2 linked regions of the Homo sapiens genome follow. The protein of the gene in region 1 purifies or fractionates together with the protein of each later gene. This does not show direct contact. Each region holds a gene or a part of one and is shown in the gene's direction. Other genes may lie near its edges.

The links.
Region 2: the proteins of VWCE (region 1) and ZNF316 purify together in Homo sapiens (affinity purification with mass spectrometry; 2 studies listed by BioGRID and IntAct, with this or other methods). This does not show direct contact.

What each region holds. Positions count from the first base shown.
Region 1 is NC_000011.10:61,281,817-61,285,316, reverse strand, and holds part of VWCE (von Willebrand factor C and EGF domain-containing protein precursor), read left to right. Parts: intron 1-2,411; coding exon 2,412-2,528; intron 2,529-2,780; exon of another isoform or gene 2,781-2,839; intron 2,840-3,402; coding exon 3,403-3,500.
Region 2 is NC_000007.14:6,654,318-6,656,548, forward strand, and holds part of ZNF316 (zinc finger protein 316), read left to right. Parts: coding exon 1-294; 3' UTR 295-2,231. UniProt on the Homo sapiens protein: May be involved in transcriptional regulation.

The sequences.
Region 1 (3,500 bases):
CCTCCCCCTGAATCTTACATTATTATTTTCTTTATGTTTGACATTTTCATAAATTATGAGAAAAAATTTAAAAGCCATGGTGCTAGCCCAGGCCCTCTTTCCCACTGCTGCCCTCTGCTCTCCCTGGAGAATAGCCTGCGCGTCTTAGTCTGCTTGGGCGGCCATGATAAAATTCCACAGGCTGGGGGCTTCTACCACTGACATTGATTCTCATAGTTCTGGAGGCTGCAAAGTCCAAGATTAAGGCACTGGCTAATTCAGTTTCTGGTGAGGGCTCTTCCTGGCTTTCAGAAAGCAGTCTTCTTGCTGTGTCCTCACTTGGAGAGAGAGCTCTCTGGTATCTCTTCTTCTTCTTTTTTTTTTTTGACATGGAGGAGGACAGAGGACACTCCCTCTGTTGCCCAGGAGTGCATTGTTGCAATCTCAGTTCACTGCAACCTCCGCCTCCTGGGTTCAAGCGATCCTCCAACCCTCCCAAGTAGCTAGGGTTACAGGTGTGCGCCACCACGACTGGCTAATTTTTGTATTTTTAGTAGAGATGAGGTTTCACCATGTTGGCCAGGCTGGTCTTGAACTCCTGACCTCAAATGATCTGCCCGCCTTGGCCTCCTGAAGTGCTGGGATTACAGGCGTGAGCCACCCAGCTAGGCCTCTCATGTCTCTTCTTAAAAGGACACTAATCCCATCAAGAGGGCACACCCTCATGACCTCATGTAACCCTAATTATCTTCTTATCTACTTATCTTACCTGCATATCTTCCAAATGCCATTACATTGGCGGTTAGGGCTTCAACACGATTTTTGAGGGGACAGAGTTTAGTCCATAGCACTCAGGCATTGGTCTGCTGTGTGCCCTCCTTGCCCCTCCCCATGATGTGTACGTACGTACATGGGCACTTACAGAGATAGGATAGTTGCTGAACTCTCAGGTCCTGGGTCCTGGGCTAAGCACTTTACACGCATTTTCTCCTTTCGCCCTCACAATTACCCAGTGAAGTTGGTATTATCTATCTCCATTTTATTGAAAGGAACACTGAGGCTTAAGGAAATTGTTACTTGCTTAAGATCCCATTAGAGCTAAGGTTTTTTTCTTCTTTCTTTCTTTGTTTTTTTTTTGTAGAGATGAGGTCTTGCTGTGTTGCCCAGGCTGGTCTCAAATTCCTGGCCTTAAGCTATCCTTCCCGCTTTGGCCCCCAAAGGGCTGGGATTCCAGGCATGAGCCACTGCACCCAGCCAGAGTTGGGATTTGAACCTAGTCATTCCTTTGCTTGTTCCCCTTACCCCTGCCCAACGTTGGTCTTGAAGATGTTTCCACATCAGGGTAAATAGACTTGCCTTGTTCCTTTTAACTGCTGACTCTGCAGTGCAAATATTTCATAGTTTACTAACTCTTCTCTTATTGATGAACATGGAGATTATTTCCAGTTTTTCACAATTTCAAACAGCACTAGGGAACTTTTACAGAGGAGGTTCCACTGAAGCTGAGTTTTGAAGTATGAGTAGGAGTTTTCCAGCCAGACAAGAGGGAAAGGCATTCGAGGCAGACAGAGAACATGGGCAAAAGTGGAGCACCAAAAGAGCGTGGTGCATTTGGAAGATGGCAAGAATTTAAGCCAGTGGCCAGGTGCAGTGGCTCACGCCTGTAATGGAGGCCAAGGCAGGTGGATCGCCTGAGGTCAGGAGTTTGAGACCAGCCTGACCAACATGGTGAAACCCCATCTCTACTAAAAATACAGAATTACCCAGGCATGGTGGTGCATGCCTGTAATCCCAACTACTTGGGAGGCTGAGGCAGGAGAACTGCTTGAACCCAGGAGATGGAGACCGCAGTGAGCTGAGATCGCGCCATTGTACTCCAGCCTGGGCAAAAAGAGCAAAACTCTGTCTCAAAAAACAACAACAACAACAAAAAAGAATTTAAGCCAGAGTGAAGGTCAGGGGCAAGGAAGGAGGTGGGCAAGGCAACCAGGACTGTGTTCAAAGGCATCGTGAGCTATGGGGCGGCATTGCTGTCTTACCCTAAGATGAGGTCTGTGGCCTGTGGGAGCAGCGGAGAGGTTTTGAGCAGAAGGGCCCTGATTAGAAATGCCCTTTGGTCAGAACATCCTGGAGGCTGTGCAGAGGATGGCTTGAAGGAACCTAGGTAGAGATAGACACACTGGAGGCTCTGGCTATTCTCCAGACTAGAGATGAATGTGGCCGGGCTAAGGGGTAGCAGTGAGGATGAGAGACGTGGGCTGGTCCAGAGAGTATTTAGGACTGGATGTGGGCAGTGCAGAAGAGGGGCAGCTAAGGTGGTTCCCCACAGCCCTGTGTGTATAGGAGATGGAGATGAGGGAGGAAGAGGGGACCATATATTTCCAAGGTTCTGTTGGGGAAATGAACCCCAGTCTTGTCCCTTTTCCTGCCAGACACTGACGAATGCCTAGGGACTCCCTGTCAGCAGAGATGTAAAAACAGCATTGGCAGCTACAAGTGTTCCTGTCGAACTGGCTTCCACCTTCATGGCAACCGGCACTCCTGTGTAGGTAAGGCGGGGAGGACCCTGTGGTCTGCACACTTAGGCTGCCAATCAGGAGGATGGACAGGGAGCCCAGGGACCCGGGAAGGTTAACAATTAGACTTTCTGGTCCTCTGGAGCTTGAAGGGGCTTGAGCCTTTGGCTCAGAGCCTGCCTGTCCCTGGGGTTGGTGTGGCTCTGCATGAAGACCCTGTCTTGGACTTTTCCTGGCCATTTGCCACTTTCATCCTGTTATGTTTCTCTTCCGCTCCTCTCCCAGATACACCCCAAGGATTCCTCTCTGCTCACCCATTTTCTTGGCTGCCTTTGCTCCCCTTGGTAAATAAAGCACGTTATGTCTTGGTTCCTCTGGTTTAGAAGGAGACCCTGTTTTCTCAGCCCATTAGCAGAAATTTCCAGAAAGGGATTGGCATGTTTGGTTTGAGCTTGGCTCATGGGTTTAAGGTGGGGTCCCATGGGCCTGAAAAAAGACCTTGTTCTAGCGGAGTTAGGTATTTGTCCCGAAGCCTTCCTTCAGCAGCCCAGTGAGTTTTGAGACTTTTTTCGGAAAGAAAAACGGGAGGGTGGAAGGTTTGGAGATGAGCTTCTCATTGGGGCTTACCCCTACCACGCAGCAATTAATTACCGCTGCATAGTGCTGGGGCTGAGTCTCTGATACTCGCATTAAATACCTGCTCGATGTGTGAACCTATTAACAAGACAAGCACTAGATTTCAGCCCCGCTCCCAGCTGTCTGAGTCACATCCCGCACCTCGGGGCAGGCATGGACCCTGTAAGAACATGGCAGAGAAACTCCCCAAGTGTTTTGAGCTAAGGGATGGGCGGAAGAAGGGCTCCGTAGCCCAAACAAAGCAGCTGTCCGCAGCGAGGCTCTCCCGCAGATGTAAACGAGTGTCGGAGGCCATTGGAGAGGCGAGTCTGTCACCATTCCTGCCACAACACCGTGGGCAGCTTCCTATGCACATGCCGACCTGGCTTC
Region 2 (2,231 bases), on another chromosome or scaffold:
ACACATACGGGCGAGCGGCCCTACGCCTGCGCCAACTGCGGCCGCCGCTTCTCGCAGAGCTCGCACTTGCTCACCCACATGAAGACGCACCGCGGAGCCACCGCAGCGCCGGGCTCGGGTTCGGCCCCAGCCCCCGCGCCCAAGCCCGAGGCGGCCGCCAAGGGGCCGTCCAGTGCCGGCCCCGGTGAGCGCGGCAGCGCCCTGCTGGAGTTCGCGGGCGGCACAAGCTTCGGCTCCGAGCACCAGGCCGCGTTCGCCGGGCCCTCGGGCGCCTACCGGGAGGGCGTCCTGTGAGGGGCCCGGGGCCGACAGCAGCGCAGCCTGCAGGGCCACCGGCCCCTCCCTTGGACGGCCGGCCCCCCGCTCCTCGGGCCCCGGGAGGCTGAGGGTCCCAGTCCTGGGTGCGGTGCCTTCCCTCAGCCCTCGCCCTGCGGCCCCGGGTCTCATGCCCGCCGGGTCCGTGTGCTCAGCCGGAGACGTGGGGGAGCTCTGGGGAGAAGAGCAGCGCGGAGGCAGCGAGGCCAGGACGTCACCCCCACGGAGACTGCGATATCCCCTGGGTGGGCCCGGGCTGTGAAGCAGGGCGGTAGTTGGCGGGCGATGCTATTTATTTCACTCGGATTCCGACTTGGGTGGTCTGGGGAGCAAGGGATTTGTGTGTTTGCAACCGGGTGTGGCGGCGAGGGAGGGGCCCGGCCACCCAGGTGGGCCAGCGGGATGCCTGGGAGGCCGGTGGGTTTGGCTGACCACTTCTTCCCATTCCTCAGTGAGAGACTTGGGCCCTCCCGGTCATCCGAGTCTGTCCCGAAGGTTTAACTGCGCGCGGCGAGGGGAGGCCTTGTAGGTTTCCAAAGGGCGGAGCTCCAGTGGGAAAACTTGAAACTTGTCGTCTGCGGATATTTATTTCCACTTCTTGTATGGCCTGAAGAATCTAGGAGGAGAAAAAGCCAGATACCAAACTTACGGCCAGGCAGACGGGTCGCGGGTGTTGACAGGGTCCTGAGGGAGTTTGAAGCCTTATTCTCGAGCCGCCTCCTCTTCTCTACCCACACTTGCACCGAGGTCACCCCGGCACCCTCCGCACCGGTTCGGTTTTGGTCTCTGCTTGTCCTCTCAGTCCTTGGTACTTTCGTCTCCCTCAGCCGGAGGTGGCAAACTCAGACATCTACGGGCGCCCGAGGCCCTCGCAGCCCTGAGCCCCAGCTTTCACTTCCCTGGGCTGCCCCTCTCCGGGAGCAGGCAGACGCCCCGTTCTCGGAGCCCAGCGCTCACTTAGAGCGACTGAGGTTGGTCGAAGGATCTTTCCCCACATCCCATAATCAGGGCCCTAGGACACTCGCAGGTCCCTTTAACTCTGCTTCTGTCATTACACTAGAACAAGTAGTGTTTCTGTTTAGAGTCCCATTTCACAAATTGGTTAGTGGAGGCACCCGTGGCCTGGCAGCTTGCACAGTGGCTGTCCACCTCGGGGGGGTGTGGACCTGAGCCGTGGCTCAGTGACAAACCAGGCACCCAACTATGCAAGGCCCCTGCCTGGTGGGCATCCTACCCTCTGGACTGGGCCCATGGAAGCCACTGGGCGGGCAGCTGGGGTGTAGTTCATGTGAAGCCCCATTCCCCTCACGCTTTTGGGGCCACTGTGAATGGGGCCAGGAAACGGATTTTTGGTGCAGCTGCATTCCCTAATAGACCTAGTTCCCTCCACGTTAGTGTAGACATGGCCTTGGGGGCTGAGCGCAGCAGCCAGGCTGCCAGGGCTGGGGGCGGGTAGGAGGCACGGTAGTTGGTGGGTGGGAAGAGGGCCTGGGTGGTGGCGGTCAGTTAGCCTGGCTGGGTGAGGTTGGTGAGGTTGCGGGGCGGGGTGGTGAGGAGAGCAGGGGTCCCAGGGAGGCATTGGGGTGCTGGGTAATGACCTCGGCCCTGGGTTTCTCCTCTCCCTGCGGGACAGGAGCCTCAGAAAGGGCCAAGGGCAAGGTGGGCTTGGGGGGCTCTGGGAATCTCAGCTCTAGCCCTGTATGGCCAGGATCTGCTGTCTCCGTCCCTCCTGGGCCCCAGCAGCTGTCCTGCAGCTGTCAGCAGGAGGGCCTGGCTTTAATAAAGAGTGGACAAACTGAACTTCTGACTGGACTCCATGCTGTCGCCACTCCTGGGAACCCGTCGGGGAGGCTCTGCGCGGCCTCAGGTCCAACTTGTTTCTGCAAACATTTTTTAAAAGATTTTCTCTTTTAAGA